2 linked regions of the Homo sapiens genome follow. The protein of the gene in region 2 binds, or shares a complex with, the protein of the main gene of each other region. Links are inferred from orthologs where the notes say so. Each region holds a gene or a part of one and is shown on either strand. Other genes may lie near its edges.

Region 1 (7,897 bases), on a different chromosome or scaffold from region 2:
TTCTTCCCAGTAACTCATCCACTAAGAACCCTGCCCACAGGAGGGTCTGATCCAACGGGGGGTTTGAGGCCACTCAGCTCAGCCTGGTTCCCAGGGCCAGTGTCCCACTCCAGAGGCCAAGTCCATGCTCCCCTCCCCTCAGCAGGCCTGTTCCTCCAGAGCTGTCCAGTCTCTCTGCCAGGCTCCAAATTCTCCATCTTCAGTGTATTGACCAAACAATGAGACAGGAGGACAGCTGGGAGAGCGGGAGTCTGAAATCACTGGTAGAGTGGCCCAGGACACACACAGGAGAGAGTCTCCACCGCTGCTGAGATGAAGGGACTCTCCATTCTTCTCAAAAGGCTTGCTGTGTTTTTGGCATTCCCCCACCTGACTTTTTTTCAAGTGAGTTGTTCCGATCTGACCTCAGAGAAGGCCAAACTGGGTGCTGTGGGGGAAGGGCAGAAAGAAACAAAACATGCTTGTAAGAAGTAGTTCCATAATCATAGCAGCTGCTGTTCATTGAGCTCTTCTCATGAGCCCGGCCCAGTACTGAATTTCATATGCATTATCTCATGTGATCCTTACCACCAGGAGGTAGGTATTATTATTGCCTTTCTAAGGATAAGGAAACTGAGGCTCAGACAGGCCAAGTTACTGCCCAAGACCATCTGGCTGCAACACAGAGTTAGAATTTGGACCCAGGTCTGTCTAACTCCACAGCTTGTGATCTTAACCTCTGTGTGTACAGCCTCAGAAAGGGAAAACAGCAAGGTGCCACTACATTTACATGAATTTCATCAATTCAACAACAAAAAACAAAGGCTCTTTGTTACCCCTGCTCCCTATCAGAGAACACCTTTATAAATGCAGTCTCAAACAAGTGGCCTGCAGTCCCAAATTCACCAACAGCCTTATTTAACTTGGCACATCATATTTTAAAATAACTTGACTGGCCCCTGCCAGCCTTTGAGTTTGCAGCCCAGGCCTCTTCTCTTACTCTATTGGATCTAGATCAAGAGGACAGGAATGGTGTTTTCAACAGAATCAAAACCATAATCGCCTAGCATTAAACCTGGGGAAGTTAGCTGTGAAGACAATTGTTCCTCCTGCATCATCTCCACCTCGGAGACGTTCTGCAAACAGTGCCACCCTGGCTGGTGACCCACTCAGCAGTAGCCACAAGGCAGCTGTATCAGCAGGTCTCCAGGAGCCAGGATGAGGCCTCGCAAGTTACTGCAGCATCACATAACAGTATGGGAGAAAGATACAGAGGGAAAATGATTCCATTCAGCTGCAACTTCAGGGTGGAGTTAATGTTTCACTCGGTGGATCCAGGCCAGGCCTCTGATCTCACACTTCCCTGGCAGACCTCTCTCTGCTGCAATCAGCTGGGAGTCATGTGTCCTCAGGGCTGGTACGATAGGAACAAACAAAGCCCATCATTCCACAAGCAGAGGAGGCCAGCCTTCCCAAACCCACAGAACACTGCTCCTTAATAGGCTGGGTGCCTATAATTAGTCTACAAATAGCACCGTGCTCATCGCCAGCTCACTCCTTTTGTCCCTACCCCCACTCACTGCACGCCCCGAGGTGCCTTTTCCAGGCACTGCAGTTCTCTAAGGGGCTACAGAAGTCTAAGCAAAGGGAAATTAGGAATCAGACTCCAAAATATTGTATGAGATCCAGCATGCAGCCTGCCTGGCAGTTAGGTTATGAGAAGGTATAATAAGTCACAAAGTTAAGAAACAAAATCTAAGCATTGGAAGGAACCCTACTTTGACCTTTTGATAGCAAGGAAAACGACTCACAGCAACACAATACTTGCCCAAGGATCTTATCCTATTTATCCTATTTTCTTTGTTGTTGTTGTTGTTTTGAGACAGGAGTCTCGCTCTGTTTCCCAGGCTGGAGTGCAGTGGCGCGATCTTAGCTCACTGCAACCTCCACCTCCCAGGTTCAAGCAATTCTCCTGCCTCAGCCTCCCAAGTAGCTGGGATTACAGGTGCCCGCCACCATGCCTGGCTAATTTTTTTGTATTTTTAGTAAGACAGTGTTTCACCATGTTGGCCAGGCTGGTCTCAAACTCCTGACCTCAAGTGATCCACCTGCCTCAGCCTCCCAAAGTGCTAGGTTTACAGGTGTGAGCCACCATGCTCGGCCTTTTTTTTTTTTTTTGAAACAGAGTCTTACTCTGTCTCCCAGGCTGGAGTGTAGTGGTGGATCTCGGCTCATGTAACCAACGCCTTCCAGGTCCAAGCAATTCTCGTGCCTCAGCCTCCCAAGTAGCTGGGATTATAGGCACGCATCTCCACACCTGGCCAATTTTTGTATTTTTAGTAGAGAGGGAGTTTTGCCACATTGGCCAGGCTGGTCTTGAACTCCTGGCCTCAAGCAATCCGCCCACCTCGGCCTCCCAAAGTGCTGGGATTTCAGGCATGAGCCACCACACCCGGCCGTGTTTTCTTTATTAGATTGAACTGATGAGGCAAAAGACGTCCTCCCTGCCCTCAGTAAAAGCCACTCTTCACTTCTTTTCACCACTAATATAAATAATCTCTGGTGATAACCTTTAATCCTTGAGCTTGGGTAAGAAAGTTTGATATCACTCTTCTATCCAGCAGAACTTCAGTTTCTCAGACTTTTCTGCTACTTAGAAAAATCACCGCCCTCAGCAGCCTCCCTTGGGCAACCCAGCCACGCCCACCACCACCACCACCTGAGCCTCTGACACCTGGCTCAGCTGAGGCCAGAATCATTCTCACCATGGTCATGTAGGTGGCCTCTGATTTTTCACTTGGTTCTTCTTCCTCGATCACCTCCCGTACAATTATTGGGGAGTAAATGTGTTTCTAGAGGGGGAAAATGGTACAAAAATTCCTAAAAATTAGATGAATCTTATACACCAGAGAAAAGGCCACCCACTCCTATTTGCTAGGCATCGACCACCCAAACTGCTGGTTCAGAGGGTTACTGAGACCTAGAGAATTCTCAACAATGATAATTCAGTCTTCAGTCTTCTTGAAAATTAACTGTCAAAGAACACAGTCTTAAGAACCAAACTCTTTGCTTCAAAAGCCAAACATCTTTGTTTAGATGGATGTTTAGGTAGCAGCAGGGGTTCCTTATCTTGCTAAATTCCTTGTATTCTGGGGTTATTTCCTTCTAATTACAGTAAAGGCAGAATGGCATTAATCAGCAGTGAATTGTCATCATCTCCCTCAGAGGATTTATGTGGCAGGGCCAGCCCTCATTGAACCTCACAACTGTGAGGTTCATGGTCCTGTCACTCGTTGGTAAAGCAGTATCATCCAGTGGCCCATTCTTGGACCACTGCACTCTACTGGGAAAAAATCCTACTCTTGGGACAAAAACAGCCCAAAATAGAGAAAGGTAACTATTCAAAGAGTTTTTTTAAAATTAAAGAAAGAAAAGAAAGAATAGGAGTTAAAGAAAACCAATCAATTTCTCAGTCTCTAGAAGCAATTATTTATAACTCCATTACAAAATCAATATGGAGAGAAAAGTCCTTCTTAATCCTTTCTTGCTAAGATCTTAGACTATTTCATTTTAAGCATTAGAACTCCTTAACTCCTGGATGTATTATAATTCTCCATTAGACTTTAGACAAATAGCACCTCCTAGATTACAAAGCATTTGCATATCATCATCTTATGTGAACCTTACAACAACCCTGTCAAGCAGGCTGGGCAACTATAGTATCTTTATCTTTATCCTCATTTTGCTGATGAGACTCAGGGAGGTGGCAGATCTTACTGACTCCAAGCGCAGTGCTCTTTCCTCAGCCCAATACCAGGATCTGCTGCCTGGGGCTGTCCCAGCCGACCCCATGCACTGTACTCCGCAGAGGCTCTTACTTTAGTGACAAAGGCTTCCTGAGTCCCTGCTCTGTGCCAAGCACTGGCCTGCAAGCTGCGACATACAATGGGTAAGATATGGTTCCCGGGGGTATGAGAACGGCCCAGGCCTGCATCTACTTAGTGTTTTAGGCTGAAGCGTGTGTTCACCTCCCCTTCACATCTTTCAAAATGGCAGGGTTTTTCTTTTATCTCTGGATTAGTCTTCTTCGTGTTCTTCACCAAGACTGTAGAATTCACTGAACTGCAAGACATGAAAAGCATGTGGAATTAACCAGCGGGCATGGTTTATTCAAGGGTCCCTACATGAGATCCCCTCTTGGCTTCGTGAAGAGAGAGACACCAGAGAAGGAACTATTCTCTCTGGACTCCTACAGCCAGGGCTACCCGGCTCACCTGGAAACCTGAGAAGCGCATCTCTTCTAATGAAGAACAAGAAGCCGTTCTGGAGATAATTTAGGCTGAAAAGCAGCTTCAACTTCTCTATTATCACTCAAGCCACTTTCAGTCCGTATGGGAGAGGTAATTTTAAGTGAATGAAGAGAGAGAGGGGAGATGGGATTCCATTTGACCATCCTGTCTACATTTCTGAGGACCAGGGAGTGCCGCGAAACCAGCAGGGGGCAGCAGGAGCTCAGCAAGACGCCAATCCGAAGGGCTCCTGGCCTTTCCGGGGGGCGGAGCAGAATAACCCCCACAAACACCCGACCCAAGCCCCAAGCAGGAGCTCTGCGCCTGCCCTGTCGGGGTCCCTTGGCCTTTGATCTCATGACCATTTGCCTTCTGAACATACTTTCTTTTTTTCTATTTTGGCCTAAGTCAGAACTAAAAAAAAAAAAAAAAAATTCAAGGTTTAAGCTAGAAAAGAAACCATATGTTTTGGTCTCAGTGGAAATATTTTCCTTGTATTTTCTGCTTTTAAAGTTGTATCTTCTCACTGTCAAATAATTCAGATAATACAGAAATGTAGACAGTTGGAAGTGGAAGTTCCCTGCAACCCGTCACCCCATGGGATCCACCTTCTCCTTCACTTCAAATTCCACACAATTACCCACATTTTACAACTGTCCTTCCAAGCCTCTCTCAGTGTAAGCATAAGCTCACATAAAATGTATTTAGTACATATGCTGCTGGAGTGAGCATCATATTATTTTCTCTTTTATAAAAATGAGGTCATACCATAAATTCTGTATTTTTACTCCTTGGATATCTTTCCATGTCATTATGTAGAGGGATCTGGAGTGTTTCATTGACTGGTTCACTGAATCGTTGCCTTTCTGACAGACACTGGCAATTATCCCTATTTTTAATTATAAGCAAGACGGCAGTTTTGCACAAATCTCAGCATATCCATTTAATTATTTCTTTAGAATAAACGACTAGACATGGAAGTGCTACCTTTCCTTTGGCGGGAAACTGAGGTCCCGACAGGGGAAGTAAGCTGAGAGTGGAATCCAGGTTGTCTAGCTCAGTGCTCCGAGCATGCCCAGAGCAAAGACCTTTAGAGAGGCCAGCCAAGTTCAAAACCAAATCAGGAAGCCCTAGGGAGTGCAAGTGAAAACTTAGCAGGCACAAGTGTTTTCTGCAGGATCCAAGACCCACTGGGAAAGAACACTCAAAAGTCAGGACTATTCATGAGGCCCTTTCCCACTGACACTATTTCAACAAGGGAGTCGATCTGCACTACAAGCATACTCCATCGATAGTTGGATAAACTGAGGGACATGGATCTGCCAACAGCCAGTGAAACACAAGTGTCCCTGTTGGAGCATCTGGGCACTTCTGAGACCCTGGGAGAACTACCGATGAAATTCAGGCCTTTAAAAGCACATTATTATTATTATTATTTTTTTTTTTTTTTTTTTTTGAGACAGAGTCTCGCTCTGTCACCCAGGCTGGAGTGCAGTGGCGTGATCTCGGCTCACTGCAAGCTCCACCTCCCAGGTTCACGCCATTCTCCTGCCTCAGCCTCCCAAGTAGCTGGGAGTACAAGCACATGCCACCACGTCCAGCTAATTTTTTGCATTTTTAGTAAAGACAGCTTTTCACCGTGTTAGCAAGGATGGTCTCGATCTCCTGACCTCGTGATCCGCCCGCCTTGGCCTCTCAAAGTGCTGGGATTACAGGCATGAGACACTGCGCCTGGCCAAAAGCATCTTTTAATAATAATTCATTTAGAACCTGAGGGCACCCATTCAAAGATCGTATCTCATAATTAGAATGTGGTCTTTTAGATAAAACCACTGGCAACCCTTAAGATCTTAGCTTCTATGCGGAACGTACAGTATGGATAATTTAAAAATCATCTTTTAGGCAGTGAATGGTACCATGATAGTTCTTGTGTAAGATTTATGCTCTGAATTATGCCCTACTGAGGCCCCCATTTCTAAGGGAGTTTGTAGTCTTTACATAATAACAAAGTGAATGAGGAGAGCGTAGGAATATTAAATTCTTTTCCCGGGCACAGTAAGCAAAGTGGGCAGGGTTACCACAGATGATTCCATTTAAAAATACCCCCTTCTGTGAGAATGGCATAAGTAGGGCCCTATCACCCTGTTCTACTTTGGGGTAGAGGCAGCCTTGCACCCCCAGCCTCCCAATCCAAGGGGTGGGGGTAGCCCTGTACCTCTTATTTCCACAGGTCTTCTTCACGATCAATATCAGAACAGGGAGCAGCAGGATTGTGGCACAGACAATTCCCACAATGATCACCAACTGATTACCACCCAAGACCAGAGGCCTCAGGGCTGCCGGGGTCACCAGTGCTTGGGAAAGTAGAAAAGCAAGGAGAGGGTCTCAATACTTTAGCAAAGAGCTGAGAGCCCCACAGCCCTATACCAAGTAGCACCAGCCAGGCCACGAAGCGGAGGGGAAGGCCAGACTCCACCCCATATCTGGACACTAGGGACACTGTCTCCATGAGATTGAGAACCAAAGTCTAACCCCCTCGTTTACCCTAAAATGTAGATTAAGGTGGGTGGGAGAAGAGGCTAGCAGTTCACCTCTAGTAAAGTTTCCTTTCACATCAACAATTCTATTCTAAAATTTGGCTTAACAAGGACCCAGAAATAACAGGCATTTGAGAGGCTGCTGATCTTCCTTAGGGCAAGTGGTTGTCTTCAAAAGAACTCATGCCGCAAGACTCAGCCCCACAGTGACGATACCAAGTAAAGCCTCCGGAGGTACTTCTGCCCATATGGAACCTTCTACTCATCTGCATGGTTCTTTCTAAATACATAAAGCAAACACCTCCTCAGGGCCAGACAGCACTAGGTACAGGGGATTCAGAGATGAATGATGATGTGTGGTCCCTGCTTCCAAGGAAGAAGACAAACACGTCAACAGAAAACCACAGGCTGCTGTAGGCGCTACAACAGAAGTCTGTATGGGGAACAGAGGGGCACAGAAAAAAGGGTGTCCAATTCTATATGCAGCAAGTGAGAATTTGCCAGCAAAAGTTCTAAAGTTTAACCTAAGACTTACAGGAAACATCCAGTTTGTTGGGAAGACAATATGGAGAAGGACAGAGGGGATGTTCTGCATGAGATCTGGAGGCCTGACAGGATGATGATTTTAGAAACTAGAAAGAGTTCAACGGGTCTGGCACAAAAGTGGCATTTGTGGGTGTGCTGGAGAATTTCGCTGGAGAGATGACAGGGTCCAAGTCAGGAAGGACCTTGACTATCTCAACCAAGAATCTGGCATTTTTCTGCAGGCAATGAAAACAACATTGAAAGATTATTAGCAGTGGAAGAGAAAGTTCTTAATGTGATTTAGAAAGATGGCACCAAGAGCCGCGTGAAGAATGAGGAGCAGTGGCTGAGAGAGAAAGCAGAGACTGGTTAGAGGCCTACAGTTCAAGACAGAGATGAAGACAGCCAGAACTAAGGCGGCAGTGACAGACTGGAAGGAAGACAACTTCAAGAGTCTGTAGTAGGAGTCAAGGACTTGTTGACCTGACCTGTTAGATTAGGGGTCTAGGAAAGGGAAAGAATCAAGCACACCCCCAGGCATCTAGTTAGACAACTGAGGTTGGGGAG
Region 2 (8,640 bases):
GTCTCTCCCAAGGTTATAGAGTAGTAGTAAAGCATAGACTATTGCTGTCTTTTCTAGTGTTGCCCGCAGACCCACATTTCTCTACCCATCCTTTACTGGAATACTCAATTACTAAATGGCCCCACCTCCTCACAGCTCCCACTTCCTGTTTAATCCTCATTTTTCCTAATCTCAGAAACAGCTGATTGACAGCTGATGGCTACTTCCTTACAACCTCCTGAGAATCCTTCAGCATCCCTGCTCTTGTCCAGTGGCATTCCGTGGTTCCTCGTAATGCCGTCCTCACTAGTCAATCTGATTTTGATAGACCACACACTTGCTCCTTGTCAGTTTGGCTGACTGGGCTTTGACAGTAGCCCCAAACTGGAAACACAGTATTCATTAACAGGTGACTGGATAAGCAAACTTGTGTTATAGTCCATTGAAATACTAAAATAACTATATATACAATAACGGCTCAATCTCAGAAATGTTATGCTGAATAAAAGAAGACAAGAAAATACATACTGTAGTATTCTATTCATGTGGTTCCAGAAGAAGAGCTAATCTACAGTGGTAGAATCTGATCAGTGGCTTCCTGGGTCCAGGGTTTTGGAGTCCCATCTATTGTAACCAGCATGAGGGAACTTCCTTGGGAGAGGGTTGGAGTGGTGCTTAATGGATATAGACACATTTATTAAAAGTGATCAGCCCACGTGATTAACATGTTAACTTTATTGTGTGAATATTATACCTTATTAAAGTTCAGCAGAAGAGTATGCAATGCCAAGGTGTTAATCCAGGATTGGGGTGAGTTGCAGGTAATGGAGTTAGTAGTTGTTCTAAACAGTTACCCAGAAACACCTGGAATATAACCTCAGATTTCCTTTTTTTTTTTTTAATTAAATATTCTTTTTTACACATGAATTTCCAGGCTGTGAATATCTTTTTGATTCAGGGTCTGGTTCTGTCACCTAGGCTGGAGTGCAGTGACATGATCAAAGCTTCACTGCAGCCTCAAAATCCTGGTCTCAAGTCATCCTCCTACCCCAGCCTCCCAAGTAGCTACGACCACAGGCACACATCACCACACCCAGCTAATTTTTCGAAGTTTTTATTATGACAGAGTCTCGCTATGTTACCCAGGCTGGTCTCAAACCCCTGACCTCAAGTGATCCCCCCACTGTCTTGGCCTCCAAAGTGCTGAGATTACACTATGCCCAGCCCAGGTTTTCTTTTTTGTAGCCTGCTCTTTGGATGGATTTGAGGTGATGTAAATGCAGAATGCTAGTTGTTCCTTGCCACACTAAGTGTTGTTAGTATTGTTGATGATAAACTGCCTGATTGTCAGGGTTATGGCGCCTAGAGGGATGTGACTTGGTACATACTGCCAGAGGGTTACATGTCAGGCATGGGGAAGAATAGCTAAGGAATGGGAGGGGGAGCTTCCTTGACTCTCAAGTGGTCTTGCTGAAAAAAGCAAGTGCATCATTCTTGCTTTTTTTCAGGTGTGCCCCATGAAATGGACAGGCACCGAGCTATGCCTGAGATATTGCCATATCTACTAATGCAGTGGCTGCTTGTCTGAGCTTATTCTTTGCTGTTTTGTGTCAGATAAAGCTGAATAAACTGATGTTGATCACTTACTGTGGTCTTTCATTCTTTTGTGAATTCTGAACCCAGAACCAACTGATAATGAGTCAGTGGTTGTGTACAATGCTGTATTCATAAAAGTAAGTTCCATTCTCTTATGTAAATTTATAATTTGTTTTCTCTTTCAGTTAAGCCTTCAGGTGCGAGATGTTACGTTGATGGATCTGAAGAAATTGGAAGTGACTTTAAGATAAAATGTGAACCAAAAGAAGGTTCACTTCCATTACAGTATGAGTGGCAAAAATTGTCTGACTCACAGAAAATGCCCACTTCATGGTTAGCAGGTACTGCTGATAATAGTATTTGTACCACATGCCATTGATTTGGACTAAGATCTAGTAGGGGTGTGTGTGTGATTTGAGATAGGGCCTTGCTCTGTCACCCAGGCTCACTGCAATCACGGCTCACTGAAGCTTCAACCTCCTAGGCTCAAGTCATCCTCCCACCTCAGCCTCCCAGTTAGCTGGAACTACAGGTGCATGCCATCACACCCTGCTAATTTTTTTTTTAAAAAATGTGTAGAGACAGGATCTCCCTGCGTTGCCTGTGCTGGTCTCAAACTCCTGGGCTCAAGGAGTCCTCTTTCCTTGGCCTCCCAAAGTGCTGGGATTACAGGCATGAGCCCAGGCATGTGCCCAGCCTGCTTGTATATTGTAGATTCCCAGATGCTTTCTTTCCCTTTTCTACATAGAATAATCAGGATTTCCATAGGAATTATTCAGTGTTTTATAATATCAATTTAGTGTCATATATTATAAATGAAGAGCTATTCTATGATTTCATTTTTTTAGGATATTAGTTACTTTGGTACTTTTTTTTGGGTTTTTTTTTTTTTTTTTTTTTTCCGAGACAAGGGGTCTCGCTCTGTCACCCAGGCTGGGCGTGCAGTGGTAGAATCTCGGCTCCCTGCAGTCTTCACCTCCCAGGCTTAAGTGAGCCTCCCACTTCAGCCTCCCGAGTAGCTGAGACTACAGGCATGTGTCACCACACCCTGCTAATTTTTGTATTTTTTGTAGACATGGAGTTTCTGCATGTTGCCCACACTGGTCTCAAACTCCTGGGCTCAAGCTCTCCACCCACCTCAGCCTCCCAAAGTATAGGTGTGGGCCATTGCGCCTGGCGAATTTTTTTTTTTTAATTGATGAGACATGTTCATGATTACAACTTAGATGGTGGCTAAAGTATAGTAAGAGTTGGCTCTTTAGTGTTTTGCCTAGATTGAAAATATAGTAATTTACCCATGGTGTGTCTGTAAATTAAAAGAAAACCCGTGTGACACTAACTAGAAAGTTACAAATTGGCCAAATCTGCTCACCTATTTGTTATAATTGACTTCTTAGTTCAAACTGATGACCAGGCTCCACCCCGCCATCCACTGCATCCTGGTCTTTAGTAGGTTTTCTCTCTGCCTCTCTGTTTTTCAAACTAAGAGACCAATCTGGGAGTCCTCTTCTGACTTCCTTTTGTATGTTTCTTCCATCTAGGGGGGAATAAAATAGGTTTTGTATGTTTTCCTGCTGCAGGAAAGATCCTTTGTGGAATGCGGTAGCGTTTATAGTCTTATGTGCCCCAAGATGGGTTTGCAGCAGGTACACAGTGGACCAGCACCCCTGCTCCAGCTGAGGCTGTGTGCTGCAGGGGATCATGGTTACTTTCACCTTGATACATGTGAACTGGAAGCATGATTGAATTCTGGAAACATCTGTGTGGCTCAATGCCAGTTTGCTTGCATCCAGCCTTGGTCTGTCTTGCTTTTAACTGGATTGTTTAATTTGGAGAGGACTATGTTTACTAACACCTGATAACAATACATACTATAAAAATGAGTTTGTTTTCTTTTTCCTCCTTCCATAGAAATGACTTCATCTGTTATATCTGTAAAAAATGCCTCTTCTGAGTACTCTGGGACATACAGCTGTACAGTCAGAAACAGAGTGGGCTCTGATCAGTGCCTGTTGCGTCTAAACGTTGTCCCTCGTAAGTTATCTTCTTTCTGTTGGTGGTTTTGTTTCTGTTATCTTTATACCACCTCCTTTAGTTCAGTCAGCAAGTGTGTATTAAGGACAAAGGGACACTGACTTTGATCAGAACACTGTGGTTTGATTATTAGCTTTTCTAGAAAAATACATTTTATTAAAAAAACTTCATAATTGCAATGATATATTAAGAAGGTAAGAGTTGTCAAATCAACCCTTGTACCATATTTAGCTGTTATAAGTATGAGTAGCTTAGAACATTCTTATATGTTAACCAAGATAGCTTTGAATATTAAAATCTTTCAGACAGGTTTTATCATTTTAATGCTTGGAATAGATTATACAGTTCAGAAGACAGTTCTTTTTATGAATTTTTCCCCCGGATCAAAAAGACTAAATAATTTGTCTTAAAGTTAACACGTGATGAAATCAATCTAAAAATGTATAGCCTACCTTCAGTATCTATACATGTATATATGTATATATTTTTTACTATTAATTCTTCTTATTTTAGCTTCAAATAAAGCTGGACTAATTGCAGGAGCCATTATAGGAACTTTGCTTGCTCTAGCGCTCATTGGTCTTATCATCTTTTGCTGTCGTAAAAAGCGCAGAGAAGAAAAATATGAAAAGGAAGTTCATCACGATATCAGGTAATTAAGTGAGACAGGAGTTGACTGATGTATACCAAATATATGTCATTTCTCTAAAGCATTCGTTCTCTTATTAACCACCCAAAGCATCTTTCTTAGGAGAATGGGTAAAAGCTCTGGCCGCCTTCTCAATACATTTGAAAGCATTTACTTCTAACTGCAAGTGCAGAGCTCCAACCACCATTCGTTGTGCCCCGCTCCCCAACCTTCTCGTACCCCATTTTAAGAACCACTGCCAAATGATTATCTCAAGACTGCCTGCTTCTTGAGAAGAATCCCTGCCTGCAGTGGTAGGGATGAAGTAGATATTGAGGTTTGAAAAAAAAACTGACCTGATTGTATCAAGTAATCTGGAAGTTTGTAGAACAATTGGTAGTATAATTTTTATTTTCCTTAAATATTCTAAATCAGTAGGTCTTAACGAGAAGTGTGCATATTAGATAATAGAATTTTAGAAGTAATAACACATGACTTCACACCCTAGAAATTGACATTTGGCAGGTCTAGGGTGGGGTCTGGACACTTGTACAGGCACACTTCAGAGTTATCGCACACTGCGATAAATCACATGAATGTTTTTGTTTTTCCAGTGCATAAAAGGTTATGTTTATACTATATTGTAGTCTAAAATGTGCAGTAGCATTATGTGTAAAAAAACAGTGTAGATACCCCAATTAAAAAATATTGCTAAAAAATGCTAATGATTATCTGAGCCCTCAGTGAGTCTTAATCTCTCTGCTGGTGGAAGGTCATGCCTCACTGTTGATGACTGGTGGCTGATCAGGATGGTAGTTGCTGAAGGTTGCAGTGGCTATGGCAATTTCTTTCTTTGGTTGTTGGGTTTTTTGTTGTTTGTTTTCTGAGACAAGGTCTCGCTCTCTGTTGCCCAGGCTGGAGTGGAGTGATACAATTATGGCCCACTGCAACCTCTGCCCCCTGGGTTCAAGTGATCCTCCCACCTCAGCTTTCCGAGTATCTGGGACTACAGGCATAAGCCACCACACCTGACTAATTCTTGTATTTTTTGTAGAGATGGGGTTTCACCATGTTGCCAAGGGTGGTCTCGAACTCCTGGGCTGCATTGGCTCCTGCCAAGATGTCAACCTGTCCTTTAAAGCTTTGAAGCCAGACATTGACATCTTTAGCCACTAAAGGCCTAGATGGTGTCTTCTTCCAGTAGAAGTCTGTTTTGTCTCTATTGAAAATCTGTTACTTAGTGTAGTTACCTTCATCAACGATCTTTTAACTAGATCTTCTGGATAACTTTCTGTAGCTTCTTCATCAGCACTTTGTTGCTTCACTTTGTATTTTTATGTTATGGAAATGGCCTTTTTCCCTAAACTCATTAACCAGCCTCTGTTAGCTTCCAACTTTTCTTCTGCAGCTGCCTTAGCTCTCTCAGCCTTGATAGAATTGAATAGAGTTAGGGCCTTGCTCTGGATTGGGCTTTGGTGTAAGGGAATGTTGTGACTATTTTGATCCTCTATCCAGACCACTAAACTTTCTCCATATCAGCAATAAGACTGCTTCACTTTCTTATCGTTCACGTGTTCACTGGAGTAACACTTTGACTTTACTTTAAGAACTTTTTCTTTGCATTTACAATTTGGTTTGGCTGTTTGGTGCAAGATACTAGCTTTCAACCAGTGTTGGTTTTCAACATGCTGTCCTCACTAAGGTTAATTATTTCTGGGTTTTGATTTAAAGAGAGCCTTGCTGATGATTGCTTGACTCCAGGAGTTTGAGCTTGCAGTGAGCTAGGATCGCACCACTGCACCCTACCGTGGTTGACAGTCTCAAAATAAATAAGATATTTTTTTAAAAAGTAGAGCCATGATAACTATTCCTTTTACTTGAACACTTAGAGGTCATTGTAGGGTTATTAAGTGGCCTAATTTCAATATCATTGTGTCTCAGGGAATAGGGAGGCCTGAGGGAGGGGTGAGAGATGGGGAGGATGTTGGGGGGGATGGCCAGAACACACACAACATTTATTAAGTTTGCTGTCTCTTATGGGCATCATTCATGGTGCCCCAAAACAGTTAAAATAGTAACATCAAAGATCACTGATCACAGATCACCCTAACAGGTATGATTATGAGAAAGTTTGAACTGTTGTGAGAATTTCCAAAATGCAACACAGACATGAAGTGAGCACATGCTGTTGGAAAAATGGTACTGGTGGCCGGGCACGGTGGCTCACACCTGTAATCCCAGCACTTAGGGAGGCCGATATGGGTGGATCACGAGGTCAGGAGATAGAGACCATCCTGGCTAACACGGTGAAACCCCGTCTCTACTAAAAATACAAAAAATTAGCCGGGTGCAGTGGCGGGCGCCTGTAGTCCCAGCCACTCGGGAGGCTGAGGCAAGAGAATGGCGTGAACCCGGGAGGTGGAGCTTGCAGTGAGCTGAGATCACGCCACTGCACTCCAGCCTGGGCAACAGAGCAAGACTCTGTCTCAAAAAAAAAAAAAAAAAAAAAGGTATTGATACATTTGCTTGACACAAGGTTACCACAAACCTTCAATTTGTAAAGAAAAAACAAAACAAAACAAAAATGCAGTAAGTATCTATGAAGTGTAATAAAAGCAAGGCACAATGAAACGAGTATGGCTGTATTTTTTAAATGCACCAAAGATAACTCATATACATAGTTATTCTTCGGTATCCATGGAGGACCTCCTGCAGATACCAAAATCCAAGGATGCTCAAGTCCCTGATATAAAATGGCGGCCAGGCGCAGTGACTCACGCCTGTAATCCCAGCACTTTGGGAGGCGGAGATGGGAGGATCATTTGAGCCCAGGAGTTCAAGACACCAACCTGAGCAAGATGTCTCTATTAAAAAAAAAAAAAGGAAAAAGAAAAAGATACAATGTATATAACCTGCACACATTCTTCTGTATACTTCGAGTCATCTCTAGATTACTTATAATACCTAATATAATGTAAATACTATGTAAATAATTGTTATAATGTATTGTTTAGGGAATAATGACAAGAAAAAAGCTGTACATGTTAGGTATTTTAAAAATATTAAAACAAAATTTTCTATACATGGTTTGTTGGCTTCACAGATGTGGAACCCGTGGATGTGGAGGGCCAGTTGAGCTCTCTGTCAGTGTTTGGTATGAAAATTCTTATGCCTAAATTCCCAGCAAACTTAAATCTGTAGTGTTTTCAGCTAAGGTTTTAGATAACTTTAATATAAAAAGAATTTTTTCTTTTCCTTTTTTAAAAAATTTTAAAATTTATTATTTATTTCTCTTTTTTTGAGACAGAGTCTCACTCTGGCGCCCAGGCTGGAGTGCTGTGGCGCAATCTTGGCTCACTGCAACTTTGGCCTCCTGGGTTCAAGCGATTCTCCTGCCTCAGCCTCCCGAGTAGCTGGGATTACAGGCACCTGCCACCAAGCCCGGCTAATTTTTGTATTTTTAGTAGAGATGGGGTTTTGCCATATTGGCCAGGCTAGTCTTGAACTCCTGATCTCAAGTGATCTGCCCACCTCAGCTTCCCAAAGTGCTGGGATTACAGGTGTGATTAAGATAGAAATATACCTGTAGGTGTTAGTGTTTTCTCAACTATAAAGTGTTACATGGCTTTAACTAGATTGTCTTGACCAGTGATACTAGAATATGAAACTATTTGAGATTTGTGTTTTGTAAGACAACATTCTAGAATCATCTACATTTGTGTAAATACCATATTTCATTAAGTGTGAAGTTATAACTCTTTAATCAGAATGACAGATTGGAGACATACACAATTTATGACGTTATGGCTTGTGCTTTTTGCTTTTTTGTGACACACACACACACACACACACACACACACACTTTTATATGTTTAGTACCTAAATACAGGCTCTTATCCATGATTCATAGCTTGCATAATTGTAGGTTTTTAGAAACTTATTCTCTTGACATGTATTGGGGATTTTGCTTTGCAGGGAAGATGTGCCACCTCCAAAGAGCCGTACGTCCACTGCCAGAAGCTACATCGGCAGTAATCATTCATCCCTGGGGTCCATGTCTCCTTCCAACATGGAAGGATATTCCAAGACTCAGTATAACCAAGTACCAAGTGAAGACTTTGAACGCACTCCTCAGAGTCCGACTCTCCCACCTGCTAAGGTAGCTGCCCCTAATCTAAGTCGAATGGGTGCGATTCCTGTGATGATTCCAGCACAGAGCAAGGATGGGTCTATAGTATAGAGCCTCCATATGTCTCATCTGTGCTCTCCGTGTTCCTTTCCTTTTTTTGATATATGAAAACCTATTCTGGTCTAAATTGTGTTACTAGCCTCAAAATACATCAAAAAATAAGTTAATCAGGAACTGTACGGAATATATTTTTAAAAATTTTTGTTTGGTTATA

Evidence for each region. The genes of interacting proteins can lie anywhere in the genome.
Region 1: the proteins of CXADR (region 2) and JAML are in contact, whole or in part, in a crystal structure (PDB 3MJ7), measured with the Mus musculus proteins. The link is inferred for Homo sapiens from one-to-one orthologs. Residues at the interface, in NP_001020363.1 of Mus musculus: Thr23, Gly51, Pro52, Asp54, Glu56, Leu58, Ser60, Gln65, Ile66, Val67, Asp68, Gln69, Val70, Leu73, Tyr83, Lys121, Lys123, Lys124, Ala125, Pro126, Gly127, Val128, Asn130; in NP_001005421.3 of Mus musculus: Arg57, Asp59, Ala69, Tyr72, Phe75, Tyr77, Leu80, Val82, Glu120, Arg122, Ser127, Met128, Val129, Met130, Lys131.

Annotation. Positions count from the first base shown.
Region 1 is NC_000011.10:118,193,991-118,201,887, forward strand, and holds part of JAML (junctional adhesion molecule-like isoform 1 precursor), read right to left. Parts: intron 6,623-7,897; coding exon 6,484-6,622; intron 4,102-6,483; coding exon 4,008-4,101; exon of another isoform or gene 3,978-4,007; intron 2,832-3,977; coding exon 2,745-2,831; intron 428-2,744; coding exon 335-427; 3' UTR 1-334. UniProt on the Homo sapiens protein: Transmembrane protein of the plasma membrane of leukocytes that control their migration and activation through interaction with CXADR, a plasma membrane receptor found on adjacent epithelial and endothelial cells.
Region 2 is NC_000021.9:17,557,216-17,565,855, forward strand, and holds part of CXADR (coxsackievirus and adenovirus receptor isoform 1 precursor), read left to right. Parts: intron 1-1,760; coding exon 1,761-1,916; intron 1,917-3,486; coding exon 3,487-3,609; intron 3,610-4,122; coding exon 4,123-4,261; intron 4,262-8,212; coding exon 8,213-8,477; 3' UTR 8,478-8,640. UniProt on the Homo sapiens protein: Component of the epithelial apical junction complex that may function as a homophilic cell adhesion molecule and is essential for tight junction integrity.